2 linked regions of the Homo sapiens genome follow. Each later gene encodes a partner of the first gene's protein in a complex. Each region holds a gene or a part of one and is shown on either strand. Other genes may lie near its edges.

Region 1 (8,725 bases):
CCAGGTTCTGTAATTCTCTGGGAAGACTCAGTGGACTCAGCATATAGTCTTACTTATAGTTTTGATTTATTATAGTGAAAAGATACAAAGAAAAATCGGTAAAAGGAAAAGGCACCTGAGACAAAGTCTAGGGTAAAGCAAGCACAAGTTTCCAGAGTCCTCTCCCAATGGAATCACACAGGATGCACTTAATTCCCCTAGCAGTGATTTGTTACGACATGTGAATGAGTTGTCTACTGGACAAGGTCACTACAGACTCAGTGCCCAAAGTTTTTACTGAGGACAGGTCATCTAGGCAGGCTTTCCCTGGCAGATAGCAAAATTCAAGACTCTCAAAAGGAAAGCAGGTGTTCAGCATAAGCCATATTGTTTGCACAAGCAGTTCAGACACAGTAAGCCAGTCTTATCAGTTAATTGTGGGAGCCCCTCCAAAATCTAAGTTCCCAAATGCCGGCCAGTGGCCAACCCTGTAATCAGGCCTCTCCAAGGATAGCAGTTTAGGCCTGCTATGTTAACTCTTTTCTGCACAAAACCTATAGAGTTAGGGCTTTGGATCTGAGATGAATGAAGTGTGGGTAGATTTACTGAGTCCTGTTATATGGGTTCTGCCCTACCAGGAAAACTATGCCAGTTCTCAGGGCTTTTGTGCATTAATCTCCTAGGCATTTGAGGCTATGACTAAATTCCATAGGGATTTATCATGTGGATTCCACTGTGCTTGAGATGGCAGTTTAGATTTCAGCTCTGCTGTACATATTGCAAACTAGAGCCAAAGACTTTAAAGTGTGTACTGGCCTCAGGGGGATGAGGTTAATTTTTTTTTTTCATTTTAGATACTTTCCCTTTTAGTACTCCTCCTACTTTTCTTATTTTTACTAAAAAGGTACCACTCTATGAACAAACTAATAAAACAAGGCCAGTCTTGGAAGGAAAAAAATAATAATTCTTAGTGTGACAGTCTCCAAGAGAAGCAAGAATATAAGCTTAGAACAAGGGGTTAAGAATCCAGAATTCCTGGGTTCTTTTAACTAATTTTGCTACTCACTTGCCACTTTGGAGAGCTACTCACTCACTTTGGATAGGTTACTTGTTTCTTCTTTGCCTGAGTTTAAACCTATTGTGAATGAATGAAATACCCTGTAGTATATTTCATAAATACATTATGTGGCATTTTATTAATGGAGGTCTTTAATGTAGGGCTTTTATGGAAATATGAAGTATTTATGTATTTATTGATTATTTATTTTTACCATGTTATTGAAGTCAATGGTGTTTGATTAGCTCAGTGGGTGAGCAAGCATATGGTGCTACTGGAGTCAAGGCTGGTCAGTAGGAAGCATCAGTCCATTCCATGGCCACTGGTAATCTAACGTAATGAATGGTGTCTTTTGTTGTTGTTGTTGTTGTTGTTGTTGTTTGAGACAGAGTCTTGCTCTGTCGCCCAGGCTGGAGTGCAGTGGTGTGATCTCAACTCACTGCAACCTCCGCCTTCTGTGTTCAAGTGATTCTCCTGCCTCAGCCTCCCGAGTAGCTGGGACTACAGGCGTGTGCCACCATGCCTGGCTACTTTTTGTATTTTTAGTAGAGACGGGGTTTCACCATGTTGGCCAGGCTGGTCTTGAACTCCTGACTTCATGACCCACCCGCCTCGGCCTCCCAAAGTGCTGGGATTACAGGTGTGAGCCACCGTGCCCAGCCATGAGCGGTCTTGAAAATGAAAAATGGTCTTGGCCACAGAAACCAGGTATGAGGGAGTGGTTGGAATGGTATAAAGTCATCACTGTTAGGGAAACAGTAACTTTAAATGCATGTTAACAGTGGGTCTTTAAAAATGAATGTCATTTGGTTAAAGAGTTTTGCTGGGCATTGAGATAATCTGACAGCATCTCCACTTCCTGTTTTTTTTCTTAATCTCCACTTTTTTTTTTTCTATGATGAGCGCCCCTAAAATGCTGGTAAGCTTCTTTCCAACAAAATTGCGGTCAAAGTAGGATGCTGGGGAATGCTGATTTTAGCAAAAGCTTGTAGAAAAGAGTGGCCTGGCACATGAGCTTAAAAAAAAGAAAAAAAGCTGGCTCTTGAATTTTGGCACAGTGCAACCTGTTCCATACCAGACAAATGAACAGGCTTAATCTGGTACCAATTCTTTTTCTCTCTTACTCCTCAGAAGTGAAGGGACTGCAGATCTTGTTGTTTTGGGGACACTTTCATGGAACTGTATGTAGGTTTTTTTGAATGGTGAGAAATCTGAATAATTGGTAAGGGGAAGGGAATCCCTCATTTCAGCTTTTCTTGATGTTGTTACTAATAACTATGAAAAAACTTCTGAGAGAACAATGTGAACTGAAGATGACTCAGCAGTTAAGACAATGCTAAGTTCTGAAACCACAGGTAAATGAAGGGCTAATTAATGTGTGGTATACTTGGACAAAATGAAGTACTCATTTGCACTGGATTACTGTGTAATGATAACGAACACTGTTCAAGAACGATTTATATTTCCATAAGATTTGTACTAAATTTTATAAAAGTAAAACAACTTTTTATAAACCCAGAGTCTGTCTTTATATTTATGTGGTGGTTTTGCCAAGAAGTTAAAAAAAGCCTTTTGACCTGTAGAAATGTTGACCTGTATTCATACTTACTAGTGAATATCTCTAATCTGCTGTTCATTATCCATCATTCCCCCTATTTTTTTTTATTTTGGGGGGTAACAGTTGACATACACAAAACAGTTTGCCAAAAGAGAGAGGAAGAACCTTAATGTGTTTCTTGTTCTGCCACCTGTTTGGACACTTGTCTTGAAAATGTTGATGTCAAGTGAGTTGACATCAGAGACATCATCTGAAGACAGCTGGAGGCCCTGTCTTGAGGACTGTACTACCAATGCCTAAAACAGTCTGGGATGCATAGTAGATACTTAGTAAGCATGTTGAAAGAATGGACAAGAGGATGAGAATGTGGTTTAGAATCATCCCCATTGGAAAACCTCCTCAAAGGTTTTCCCAGTGGATTGGGTCATCAATGTCATTTTTCTAAGTAAAGTACTACGGACCCTGAGGAGTGTGTTCTACCCAGACTGGCTTGACTTTCTGAAGGCATCCTATAGTTACAGCCTTTAGAACAGTTGAGCTATCGGCAGCTTTAAAGAGGCTTTCAGTTTTTTTTTTTTTTAAATCATTAATGCTTTGTAGGTGACTATAGAGATTTTCATCATTTAAAAAAATTAGTTCTGGAATGAATAACCACTGGCTTAATTCAATCTTTTGCTTACCATCTTCTGAAGCTTTCCCACAGCAAAATGCCTTCTTTGCTCACAGCTAGAACCGTGGGTCTGTTTAAGTTTGGAAAGATCTTGAAAGCAGCTTGCCAAGAGGTTTTGTATGCAAGGAAGAGAAGGTGAATTAGGAAACTTTCCCAGTTTGTTTTATTCCTGAAGCTTAAGTATTGAGGCTTCCCTCAAGTATTAAGGGAAGAGAGGAACTCCAAAATGCATGATTTGATGAGTCATTGGGTTCAATTAATTTTATACTTACACTGTAACATTATTAGGATAGGGGAAAATAAGATATTTAGTACTTTTAAGAAAGATTTATTAAGTTTGGGGATAAGGTTTGCATTTTGGTCAGTATATATATGTATATATGTGTGTATATATATGTGTATATATATGTATATATATGTGTATATATGTATATATGTGTGTATATGTGTATATGTGTGTGTGTGTGTATATATATATATATATATATATATATATATATATATATGAATGGGATTCCTTCCGGTTGCATGTAAACACTCAATTTAAGAGTCTTCAGGGTAGAATTGTCATGCTAGAATACACCAGCAGGTGGCAATGTGTCCTGGTCTCATCATTAGGGAAGTGCCTTGGCTAATCTGCTTCTATTCTTTCCAAAAATAAACATTACAAAATTAGTTGGCTGTGCCTTGAACCTAAAAAATCGAGCAATAAAGAGTCGTCTCTGGTCTCTGTTTATCTTTTCCTTTTTTTCCCCCCCGTTCTAACTAACGTCAGCGTGAGCTCATGCCTCTATTCGGGGATAATGATCCTTTCATGAACTGTTGCGGAATGACTTTTTGCAACAGCATTGTTAAGAGGTAATTGTTTCCTCTCTCCACATCCACTGTTTATTAGATTTGATTTGCTACTTGGATTCCACAAAATGGCTGAAATCCCTTGTCACCAACATAGGTTTAAGCTCAAAAGTCTGAAAATAGTTGGATAAAGGGAATAGCCACTTTGGATGTTTGCAGGCAGAACTGAAGAACTGTATTACATGTGGTACCTAAATTGCCAAAATACTGAATTATTCAATCATAAAACTAGATGGGTATCTAAAGCTCTCTACCCAGTAGGGGAAAAAACCGAAAAACCGTTTGGGAATCCTTCAGAGAGAACCGTAATGCTATTTACTGGATAAATATACTTCATTTTCTTCTCCCAGTTCTTTCCACAACACGCTTGTTAAGTCGCCATGGAAAGCACCATGCTTTATCAATTTGGCAAATAACACATTTCATTTTGCCAAGGCAGAAACAGCCTAAAAGTAATATTTATACCGAGAAACCCTGGCTGCAGTCCCCAGCTGCTCTCCCGCAGCCCTGCGCCTCCGGCTCATGCAGCGCTCTCCCCCCGGAGCCGGCAGGTGCCCAGGTGAGCGGGGCCTGCGGAGGCAGCGAGGGGCGCCGGCCGGGAACCGGCAGAACGCGTGCAGCCAGAAGACAGGAGAGATAATACATTCCCTTAAGTAATAAAAGTTTCCAGGACAAGGGGGGCTGGTAATTTTCAAAGAGCCTCCCGGCACGATGTCCTCGGGATCTGGGGGGCGCTCTCGGGCGGTCTCTGGTGAAAGTCGACTTAGTACAAACTGGACTCGAAGGGGCATGTCTCGGCACTCAGGGGCCCAGGCGCCGCGGGAGGTGGGTGGGCCTCCCGGGGCTGCACGGGTCCCACCTCCCTCTGCCCCGTAGGACTACTTTGCCGCTCTCCCAAACCGGGCTCCGGCGGAGGCGTCCGTTCAAGGGCGAGAGCGCGGCCCTGAGCGGCGGAGGGATCCCGGGTGAGGCGGCTTCCCGAAGTCAGAGGGGAGGGGGCCATAAAGTCGGCGGGGGACGGGAAGCGCGAGCTCGCGCCGGACGCGGCCAGGGCCGGGAAACCAGAACCGGAACCGGAACCCGCGCGCGCGCCCGCGGTTGCGCGGCCCCCACGGCCGCCGGCCTCCTCCGCTGTCTGCGCGCGCGCCCGCGAGGGCCTCCAGAACCCGGCGAGCCGGCCCTGCGCCGGGAGACGCCGCCGCCTCCGCCTCCCGGACCAGGGCTTCCAGGCCGGGCCGGACGGGCATCTCCCGCCCCTCGCGGGGAGCGTCGGGGAGGAGCCGCCGCCTCTGGCGATTGCGGAAGAGTCCGGGCCTCAAAGGGATGGGGAGCAGTCCGCGGCGCTGAGAGACCCGGGTCCCTGTCACCTCGGGCCGCGGGACCTCTCCGCCGGCGCCAGCGGCTCGTCCCAGCACCGGGAGCCTGGTGAGGGCGGCGAGCACAGAAGGAGCCCCGGGCCCGGGACATGGAATCGCGCGAGCCCGGCGCGGGACGGCCGGAGACGCGGCCAACGCTGCGGCCACGAGCAGCCGGCAGCCCCAGATAGAGAGCCGGGAGGGAGGGCCCCGGCCCTTGCCGCGGCGGGGAGTTCGAGGCCCCGAGACTCCGGAGGAGGAGCCGACACCCGTCCGTGAGCTGATCCCGCCCCAGCCCCGGCGGGAGTCCCGGGTCCCCTTCCCACTGCGCGCGGATTTCCCTCTCTGAGGAAGTTTATCCTTGTGCCTTCTGGAGGATTTCTCTCTAGCTCGACTCACTCTGGACTGACTCGCTCCCTGGCTTTCTCAGTTCGTTTTGGGAGATAACTTGTTTTGCTCCAAGCCGCATCCGTTGACCCCTTACAGTCGGATGGTCTAGATGACTGAATGGAGTTTTGAGTTGGACTTTTGTGTCCCTGACGGAGTTGGGCCTGATCCCAGAGCACTGGGGGTGGGGAGGAGGTGTTACTGTAAAATGCAAGTTGGATAAAAGGAGGACCTCTCGCCAAGGGCCCCAATGAGTGGCACACAGTCTACTATCACCGACAGGTTGGTATGAATTCCTCCTTCGTTCGGCCTCCCGGAATCGGGCCCGACCTAGCAGGGGAGTCGGTGATTGCAGATTGCCTTTGGCCAGCGAAGTTGACAGGCAGAGGAAAGAGGGTTGTTTCGGAGCTGTGCAGTTAGCCTGGGGTTGCTGCCGAGTTATCCAGTTGATTGGCTTTTGGAAATGTAATTTTTCCGGAGAGAAACTTCCCTTCCGATTCTCAGAGAAGGGGGAGGCAAAACCATGATTGTGGTTTTCCGCCTGTAGTGTGCATTAGGATTGTGTACTCGTCTGGAAATCAGAGGAGAAGGTCATTTTAGGTGAAGGTCGGTGCCTGAAGTCGGCTCGGTATTGGTGTATTATTTATCAGCTTTAGCCGTGTCCTGCAGTAGATTCTCAAGACAATTACATTTTAGGAATTTCTACCTGTGAACTTAATGTTGAGCCTACTGCATGGTGATCTGGGAACTTGATCTCTTTCAGATGTTGACCTGCACGGTGTTTAATTATTATCTAATAACTTTCCAGAATGTTGACATTACCAGTAAATCACAGGTTCTTGCTGGAAGCAATGTCCAGGAGCTGAAGAAATGAGGGTAAATCATGGGGTTTGCTTTTAATTCTTGTATTTAAATATTTCGTCTTCCAGAAACACTTGGCGTTTAAGAGATATAAGCCGTAAGCATAGTGTAAGCGCGCAGCTGAATTTGTTGAGTTCTGTGTCTGTCCTTTATAGCACCTACCAGTGTTGCATGGTGGTGGGTGGCGAATTGAGCTAGACCATGTGTGGTTGAAGTGCAGTTTGCTTATCCTAAGTTACTCTTGTTTATAGGGTAAGGGATAAAAAGCATATTGATTCCTTGACCACATTTCATTCTCAATTTAATTATGACACTGCATGCTAGTCCCAAATTTGTCAGCTTGCTTTATTTTTAAGTCAGTCTTCGAATTATTACACCGTGAAAAAATAGATCAAGTAACTGAATTAGAGGGCCAAAGCTCTTTGATGAAAAGTGCAACAATAGTGCTTCTGCACAAAGTAGTCTTAATTTCCTAATAAGAGTTTTACCCAATTGTAAGACTCATTTGTTGATTTTAAAAGGGCCAAATTCCATTATCATACCATAACAGCTACTCCAGAAACAGAACTTCCTCTTCCTGTTGATGCTTTCCAGCATCACATGAATGTTCACTTAAAAGAGTCTGTTAAATATTTAAAGTATTTATATTTACTCTTTGTGTATTTTTCAAAGTGGGTTTTCATTTTCAATGAAATAATTTTTAACTTTTCCAAGAATACACTTAAGATAAGTATTGACAATGCTTATCTTACTTTCTTCTGGTTATCCCCATTTTTTTCCTTTCAGGGTGTTTTGCTTCTGAGAAATCACTTTTACGGGTGTGGGGATAATTGTTTTCCTGCTTCATTCAATTCTCGCTCTTTCTGTTGAGCCTGTAAACAAAAGTCTTGCTAGGAACTAATGTAATGTTGGTTTTCATTGCGATGCTGAGGTGTTTAATTTATGGAAACAGAACGGACTCATTCCACACACAAGTGAGTGAAAAGCCCTCAAGTAATGGTTTTTCTTCAGCATTGCTTCTCAGGGATTTTCCTTGTCTTCTCGTTATCTTGGAAATAGAATCTTGGAATTTGTATCCTCTTTATAACGTAGATGGCATATAAACATTCAATAAATATGAAATTACTGAAAGCCTGTTTCTTTTCTTTTTCTTTTTTTTTTTTTTTTTTGGCCAGGCACTGTGCAGGCACAAGAGATTACAAAATGAATATTGTAAGATTAATCTGCAAATTGGTTTGGGCATTAATGTTTTTTGAACTGGTTCAGGTGCTGCTGCCTAATTTTACATTTTTTTTTTTTAAAGAAAAGACCTTGGAAAGCCAATTAATAAGCACTGCTGAGACCTGTTTCGTAGGATTTTTTTTTACTAGGGTCTTTTTTTATTAAGAATTATTCTTATTTGACCACATTTAAATATATTTTGTAAATATAAAGCATCCATTTGCTGTTAAGAGAGTAGTTGTTCCTAATATGAATATATGTTGGGGTGAAATCTGGAGGTACTGGTTTAGTATTATTTCTCTGCCAAGGTGTCTTAACAAAGTTACGAGTATATAATAGTTTCTAGCTTTCTGTCAGCCCTACCTCATCCTTTTTTCGTAGTGTCTAACTCTTACTGTAGGTATATTTTGCTGACTCTAGAACTGTTGGAAAATTAACAGCACCAGTGTAGCTTTTTAGATAGAGATCCTTTCAAGTTTGAAGTGCTGTATGTGGTATGGCTTTGTTTCGTAGAGTGTGCAGAACCACCAGGCCAGCTGTGTGAGTTAGAGTTCTTTCATTGTGGTGCTTCTGACTACAGAGTCTGTCTGTCCTCAGTTGAAATCAGACTAGCTGGTTTTGGGCGTTGTTCTGTTTTGCAGTTTGTGGCAGGCGACACATGGCTGAACAAGATAAGGGTTTTATTCTTGTGTTAGGGACGTGCTGGGGCTGGGATGGAATTCAGCTATGTTTAGGCTCTGATTGGTCACTTTGGATACTCAGAACTCTGTTACATCCTGTTA
Region 2 (7,598 bases), on another chromosome or scaffold:
GCCTCTCTCACCCCCTTGAGGTTCTAGCCCAGACCCTCTGCCACCCAGATGACTCCAGAGCCAAGTGGCACAGATGCCACTTGCAGGCTGACAGCCCAGCATGATTCTGCTCTGGCCTAACTCAAGTATTTCCTGAGGTCACTCTCAGGCCCCTCCATGGGGACATCTCTGAGCCTCAACTTCCTCACCTGGACGATGGAATTGGTGTCACCTAGCTTGTGGAGTTCTTGTGAGGATCAAATAAGACAATCAAAGCACCCCATGAAGGGCTTCACACACAACACCCCAAAATTATATCTGCTATTAGTGTTGTGGTTGTCATCATCAACATTTCAGAAACATTGTTCATAAACTCCCTGGAGTTACATTTTAGGGCGGTTTCAGGAATGGGAGAGGTGAAGGGGACACCTGTGCCACCAAGGGAAGCACAGCAGTGGGAAGACGCATGCAGGCAGACCCAGGCAGGCCTGGGGCTGAATCCCAGCTACCTTGCAAGAGCCTGGCTGAATCAGGGTACATGGCAGCTGCCAGGACAAGACCCCTGCTTGCTCTGTGATGAGATGGTGGGAGCCCTGGTCTTTCAGTGGCAGTTGGAACATTCTGCATTTATGTTTCCTGCCCCAACCAGCTCACAGGGCTGCTGAGGTTCCCAAGGGCTTCCCTGCAAAGGGGCAGTGTGAAGGGGGAAGGACCGTTGTGGCAGGAGGCCTATGCCCAACCCAAGAAGCAGAGGGAGGCCTTACCCAGGACAGTTCAGCCAGGACAGAGTTCATCTCTTGGTCGCTGGCTGGGACAGTCTGTCTGATGTCTGCATAGTACCTGCCAGAGAGCCAGGGCACAGCAGCTGCTGGGTAAACAAGCCCACTCCCCTGCTCCCAACCAGAGCCCACCCCCCAAGCCTCAGCTGCACACGCCCTCCAACCTCTACCCACCGTGCCCTCCAGTACCTTTCCACCATCCGCTTGTACCGGGGAATGTCCCGTGCATACAGAAGTTTGTTGATCGGGGAGTCCTGGACATAGCAGGAGGACAGCAAAAGAGGAAGGAAGGAAGGATGAGGGTCCCTGTTCGAGTGATCAAGTGTCCTGGGTTTCCCAGTACTGCTTCAGTTTTGAAAAGGAAAAGTCTCACATCCCAGGAAGCCCCTGAGTCCCGGAAAACCAGGACAGGTGGTCACCCTCGCCTACTTCCTTCCGCAGGAGCCTCTGCTGCTCCCTCCCTTCCACCAATGTCCAGTCTCTGATGTCATCGGAAATCATTTCTCAGCTCCACATGCCACCATCTAGATCCAGCAAGAGCCCGGTACGTAGGGCAGGACGCATGCTGTTCACTCCCAGGGTCATCATTTTAAAAATGAGCAAACAGACCCAGAACATTACCTAAGCGGCCACAGACCACCTCTCTCCCCAGTGGCTGAGCTAGGATTTGAAGCAGGTCTGTCCAGTTTCCACCACTTTAACACACCTAGACACAGCGTCTACAACTGAACTGGGTTCAAGTCCCAGCAGCCATGGGCTCTGGGCAGCATACTTCTATTCTCAGGACCTCTCCTCATCCTAGAGCTGCTGGGAAGGTGAGAATATCTCGAGGTGGCACTGTCCCCCATGAGCAGGGATCCAAGGCCAGCTCCTCTGTCAACCTGAGTCAGGATTCGCGCCTTCTTGACAACTCCCCATGGGGGAACCCTTGGCATTCTTTGTTCGGACTACTCCTGAGCTACCCAGGAACCATTTGCTGTTCTGCTGGGAAGGGGAGGTACTGGAAGGATCTGGCAAAAATCCCAGCCACCACATAGGGTCTACCCTGGAGGTGGCCCTGCGGGTCCTGGTGTGGCCCTTTGATTCTTAGCTCATTATAGGCATGATGACAGCATGTGGAACAAAAATGGCTCCCAAAAGACAGTGCTACAATTTTGGACAGAACTTTCCGTTTTTGTTTTTGTTTTCAGACAGGGTCTCGCTCTGTTACCCAGGCTGAAGTGCAGTGAACAGAGTAGTCATGGCTCACTGCAGCTTCAACCTCCCAGGCTCAAGCCATCCTCCCACCTCAGCCTCCCTAGTAGCTGGGACCACAGGCACACACCACCACTCCTGGCTAATTTTTGTATTTTTTGTAGAGACAGGGTTTTGCCATGTTGCCCAGGCTGGTCTCAAACTCCTGAGCTCCTCAGGCGATCTGCCCACCTCAGCCTCCCAAAGTGCTGGGATTCTAGGTGTGAGCCACCGTGCCAAGCTAATTTTGATTTTTCCCAGAGGTGTAGGGATGTATCTCTCAAGAAGTCCCAAGCCAACTGAGACCTGGGGGTCTAGGCTAAGCAGAGCCCCACTCATGGACCTGCAGAGTCACACGAGGGCCCTGCCCACTGGGTGCTTGAGCAGACACCTTGGGGACCTCATATGTCAGGGGACTCTCGGCTTTGACTGCTATGACAATAGACTCCCAACCTCTGTGCTCCCGGACGGCTCCAACTACTCAGTCTCCTGTGCTTCCCAGCTCCCCTCCTCACACATCCCTCAAACTGTGACACTCCATGAACTCTCTTCCCTACTTCCCTACTGGCAGGCAGACACCTCCACCACCCTAAGGAATTAAACCCAATCAGCAGCCCAGAGCTGCTCTGGGATTGAACAATCCATGTCTCTATCTGGAAACCCCACAAACACCAGACTCACCTTCTCCAAGTCTAAGCTTACCACAGCCAGAGGCCCAGGGATCATGTGTGACTCCCCTCCTTCTTCCTCATCCCCCACATCCAACCTTCAGCTTTTGCCTGCCCTGCACCCTCCCACCCGGCTTGAACCCAGCCACTGCTTGTCAGGACAGCACAGCGCCCTCTTGGGACTCCCTCACTCAGCTCATCCATGCACAGCAGCCACAATGTTCCACCAAACTCTCAGGTCTGGTCACATAACTTCCCTGTTCCCAGACCTTCTGTGGCTCCCACTGCCCCAGGAGTGAGTCCTGACCAACTGGCCCTGGCCTACTGCCACGCCTGGCCAGCATTCTATGCCCCAGCCACACCAGGCTGTACTTGCTGCACACAACTTCACCTGTGAATTGGCACACAGTGTCCCCTCCTCTTGCTCATCCCTTAAAACTGAGGTGGCCCCGGGATGAAGCCTTGGCTTGGGAGGTCAGAGGTCTCCCCTAAGCCCTCCTTGAAGTTCTCAGAAAAGCCTGGAATCTGAGTGCACACACAGCACTGTCCACCCTCACCCATCCCCCCGTGTCCATCCCAGACTCGCTCACCCGGCCCAGCTTGTGGTCGGCCAGGGTGCAGGCGTCCATGAAGGTCTGTGCAATGACAAGGAGCACCGCATCCATGTTATCAGATGTTTGCACGTCGAACACAAACTGCGGGTTTTTTATTATATTGATCCAGAACCTCAGAGGCAAGCTGCGGGTGGGGCAGGCATGGCCGATGAATGTGCTGGGGAGGCAGAAGAGAAGACCCCCCACACACACCTAGAGCCCACCCAGCTCCACCCCACCTGTTGGTCTTCCAGATGTGGATGGTGTCCTGGTCGGAGATGCCATGCTGCTGGGCCTGCTCATCCAGCAGGTCAAAGAAGTACTTCACAGCGAGCGGCACGGGGCGGCTGGTGCTGAGAATCACCTGGAACAGGTCATCCACGAACTTCTGCAGGGTGCCCTGTGGGAAGGAAGAAGCAGAGAGGTGTGGTCAGCAAAGGGCCCTCAGCAGCAGCCCAGCCTCAGACACCCCCCGGCACTGTGCCTGCACGAGCCCCACACCACCCCCAAATCCCACGAGTGGCCATGCTCCCTCTCAGCCCAGGCCCCACTACCTTGGCAGCCCCACCCCACCTTCATGGACAGCAGGCGGGTCAGGTAGATCTCAGGGATGGCCTTGGCGCGCTCACGCTCCCCGCCCCGAAGGCTGCCCCTCCGAGGCCTGGGCGGCTCCGGCTCATCACTTGGCTTCACCAGGTGCCAGGGCCGGATGCCCCCCTCATCTACATCCTCCAGCATTGGGGTCCCTGTGCCAAGAGCCCACAGCTGTCACCCCTCCCCAGGTGCCACCTCCCCAGGCCCCCTGTTTCTTGCCAGCTCTCCCAGGGGTGGGGGCACCTGGTTGAGGGATTTCCTGGGCCGAATGGAAATAGGCACAAGCCTGCCCTGAGGCCCAGAGGACCTTCCCCATGACTCCGGGCTGGGCACAGCAGGGGCAGAGGACCGTGATGGGAGCGGTACTCACGCTCTCCAGGGACATAATCCTGGTTTTCCCGGAGCACATGCTTGGTGAGGCAGGGGACGAGGGCCACAGTTGCTCCATCTGGGACCTGCTGAGCACAGCTGGTGATCCCTCCACCAGTCCCACCCCACCATGCCCTCCTCCAGCTCCCACTCCTCCTACCTTGTAATGCTGCAGTGTGTTCAGGCGCCTCCACAGACCCTGGACCTCAGAAGTGACATCCTCGTCAGAAAGAATGAGGTGCCCGGCCACCCCAGACCGCCACTCTGCAAGGGCAAGGCAGAACTGGGTGCAGGGCTGGAAGATACCCTTCCCATAGTGGAGCCCATCTCCTCCTCCACAGGGACACCAGCCCCTCCATCATGGGGCAGCCTTACTCAACCTCTCCAAAGACCAAGAGCAGGGACCCCCTCCCCAGATGAGAGGCTGTCCAAGAAAGATGTTCCAAAGCCAGCTTCTGCCTGCCTCCCAGCATCCTCCCCACCCTGAGTGATGAGTTGTCCCTGCAGAGTTGGTCCGGGGCCAGCCCAGGCCCAACAGTGGCTCAGGTCCCCAGGGGCTCTCCACGCCCTCACCAACATCAAGGGTGCGAGGGTCTGGCCGCTGGGTGAGAGGCACTCCTTTATAAAGCTGGTCCAGCATCTTCTCCTTTGCCTGGGAGATGGTGTCACAGTCTAGGACCTTCACGGGCACGCCCTGGGCCTCTCCTGCCCCAGGCCCCACAGCCAATAGTGCATTCAAGGTCTGTGCAGGACACACAGGAGCCATCAGGGTTCATGTGCACTCAGGATGACCAAGACACAGGCCAAGGGCAGAGACAACTCATGAGAAACTGCTGCCTCCAATCCCCACGCACCACACAATCCCTAATTCTCGTCTCTTCACCTGCCTGCCTTCCCCAGGGACAGCAGCTTCCTCCCCATTGTGACCCCAGCACCTAGCGCAGTGCACTTGTAAACCACTATGGGGTAAATGGCAGAAAAAAATGAGTGAGCACAAGTCCCTCATCACTCAGATCCCCAGGTTCCTGGCTGAATGGGTCAGGCTGACGGAGTTTCGGGAAGCCTGCATTCCCACCATCGGGAGCAAATATTCCCACCTATCCGACAGGGGAGGGGTTCAGCAGGCCTGAATGGGGGTTTCCCACAGGAACCCTTGTGCGTAACTAAGGGGAAAGCAAACCCAGAGAGAAGTGCCTGCCAGAGTGAGGCTGGCTTGGTGGGCAAGGCCGCATTCCTGGTAGGAGGGCCAGGCAGACAGGGTCAGGCCCTGACACAGCTCAAGCCCATGGTCTAAGGTAGGGCTGGCTTCTCCCAAACCCTGGTTGTGGCTACCCTAGTTCCATCCCTAGCCTGGGGCACATAGAGGCCTTATCATCAAAGTCTGCCCTAAACTGCTATCCTGCTAAGCTAGTCTGATGGGCTCTCTCCAGGAGCCAGCCAGAGGTCAACCCAGCTCTACATCCAGGTACCACATCAGAAGCTGGTGTCCAGACCCCACACACCCACACACTCTCCACCCTCGCCCTCACCGCACTCAGACTGCAGGCCACACACTTGCACACCCTCACCAGGGGACGGTACTCCACATCCTCTCTGAGCAGGCGGTTGTCGTTCAAGGTGTATTTGGCCTTGCCTGTCACACTGTCCACTGGCCCCTTATCCACTTGGTGCTTAATCCCTCGAAAGAGCATGTACAGAGGCTCCCCTACGGAGTCCTAGGAGAGCACAGGCAGTTAGGGCCCCCCAGCAGGTGGCAGAGGTGTATGGGACATGACGCACACTGGGGAAGGGGACAGGACATGGGCTTAAGGGGACTGAGGACAGGCTGAGCAGGAGTCTCTGCTCTGGCACAAGTGTCCGAGCTGCATGGTGGCTGAGGGCTTAGAAGTTTGGAGGGCCTGACCCTCCCTGGACAGGAGCCCTGTCCACCTCTGCCCCCTCACCCTCACGAAGGTATACAGACAGATGGACATCCAGTTGGTGAGCAGCTTCTCCACCACAGTCTCTGTCCTGAGATGATGGGAAAGGGGAGTGCCAGGGTCAGCAGGTGGGGCTGCGGGCCTCTCTATCCTGCAGACCCCCCAGCCCGAGGCCCCACCCCAGCTCCAGCTGTCCAGGGCCCACCCAGCCCCAACAGCCACACAGACCTGCGCAGCATCAGCTTGGGGTTCTTGGCCACATACTGGGCAACCAGGTCACTGAGCAGAGTGCGGAGGATGTCAGTGAAATACTCAAGCTTCCCATGCAGTGCCACGGTGAGCAGAGATGCCACGTAGGCACGGTCCCGAGCTGAAAAGGTGCGCTGGCTCTCCAGCGTGTGGATGAACTGCAGCCAAAGAGAAGGGATGGGAAAAGGGGTTTAGGGGGACAGAGGGGCGGGCTCAGAAACCATGCCCTGGAGAAGGGGCAGGGCCAGGGGCAGGCCAGGAAGATGCAGCTGGGGGTACCTTGGTGAGGAAGAGCTTGCTGTTGAGCAGGTTAGAGAGCTGCCCCAGCCCTTGCTCCACAGTGGGCCGTCTGCTCTCAGGCACACCCAGGTCCCGGTGCAAGGGCGACTCGCGGTGCCCAGGGAAGAAGATCCTCTCCGCATACACCTTGTAGTCGAGGAAGGGGATGCCGCTGCCCAGGAGGTCACTGGTGAGATCGGTCATCTCAGTCATGAGGTCTGTTAAGCAGAAGAGGCCAGGTTAAGCACCTGTTAAGCACCAATCCCGTGTGATGGGAGTGGGTTTGGGCAGAGTTCTGGAGGGCGGGGCCCATTCTCTCAGCCACACCTGTGAATTCCTTCTTGCAGCGGTCCCGCACACTGCTCTCCAGATTCTCCAGCTGGATCTGAACCTTCTTATAGTCCCTCAGGGCCTGCTTGCTCTTCCTCCTGCTCAGCCCCAGGGTCAGGAGAGGATGGCCAGATGAGTCCTACTCGCCCAGGCCTGCCTGACAATCCCCAGGCACACCCCGGCCTCATCCAGCACAGTCCAATGCAGCCATGCCAGCCAAGCTCAAGCCTAGCCCAGTACGATTCAGCCTGTCCCGTCCCAAGCAAGTCACACACACCCATGCCCCGTCTAGCCCAGCACAGTTTAGCCTAGAGATCAGCCAACCACAACCAGGCCAAATCCATCCCACAACCTATTTTTATAAAGATTTGTTAGAACACAGCCACTTTCATGTGTTTCCATGTCGTCCCTGGCTGCCTTTGTGCCACAGTGGCAAAGCTGAGTTGTTGAACAGAGACCACTTGGCCTGCAAAGCGAAAATATTTACTCTCTGGCCATTTACAGAGAATGTTTCCTGACTCCTGGCCCGGTCTGTCCCTTCCCAGTCCAGCCAGATCCCACGACCTGCCCCAGCCCAGCCACATCTGGCTGCACCCACCTGTACAT

The links. Proteins that work in one complex are often made in the same cells at the same time.
Region 2: the proteins of ARHGEF12 (region 1) and PLXNB1 are in contact, whole or in part, in an NMR structure (PDB 2OS6), measured with the Homo sapiens proteins. Residues at the interface, in NP_056128.1 of Homo sapiens: Phe82, Gly83, Leu84, Thr85, Val86, Ser87, Gly88, Asp89, His127, Val131, Lys135; in NP_001123554.1 of Homo sapiens: Glu2129, Lys2131, Val2132, Thr2133, Asp2134, Leu2135.

The regions. Positions count from the first base shown.
Region 1 is NC_000011.10:120,331,133-120,339,857, forward strand, and holds the start of ARHGEF12 (rho guanine nucleotide exchange factor 12), read left to right. Parts: upstream 1-5,280; 5' UTR 5,281-6,111; coding exon 6,112-6,143; exon of another isoform or gene 6,144-6,737; intron 6,738-8,725. UniProt on the Homo sapiens protein: May play a role in the regulation of RhoA GTPase by guanine nucleotide-binding alpha-12 (GNA12) and alpha-13 (GNA13). Acts as guanine nucleotide exchange factor (GEF) for RhoA GTPase and may act as GTPase-activating protein (GAP) for GNA12 and GNA13.
Region 2 is NC_000003.12:48,406,080-48,413,677, forward strand, and holds part of PLXNB1 (plexin-B1 precursor), read right to left. Parts: coding exon 7,591-7,598; intron 7,459-7,590; coding exon of another isoform or gene 7,308-7,458; exon of another isoform or gene 7,091-7,307; coding exon 6,990-7,090; intron 6,881-6,989; coding exon 6,663-6,880; intron 6,542-6,662; coding exon 6,363-6,541; intron 6,226-6,362; coding exon 6,159-6,225; intron 5,931-6,158; coding exon 5,784-5,930; intron 4,958-5,783; coding exon 4,789-4,957; intron 4,480-4,788; coding exon 4,376-4,479; intron 4,305-4,375; coding exon of another isoform or gene 4,302-4,304; coding exon 4,217-4,301; intron 3,999-4,216; coding exon 3,826-3,998; intron 3,653-3,825; coding exon 3,492-3,652; intron 3,398-3,491; coding exon 3,250-3,397; intron 1,013-3,249; coding exon 948-1,012; intron 820-947; coding exon 744-819; intron 662-743; exon of another isoform or gene 489-661; intron 1-488. UniProt on the Homo sapiens protein: Receptor for SEMA4D. Plays a role in GABAergic synapse development. Mediates SEMA4A- and SEMA4D-dependent inhibitory synapse development. Plays a role in RHOA activation and subsequent changes of the actin cytoskeleton.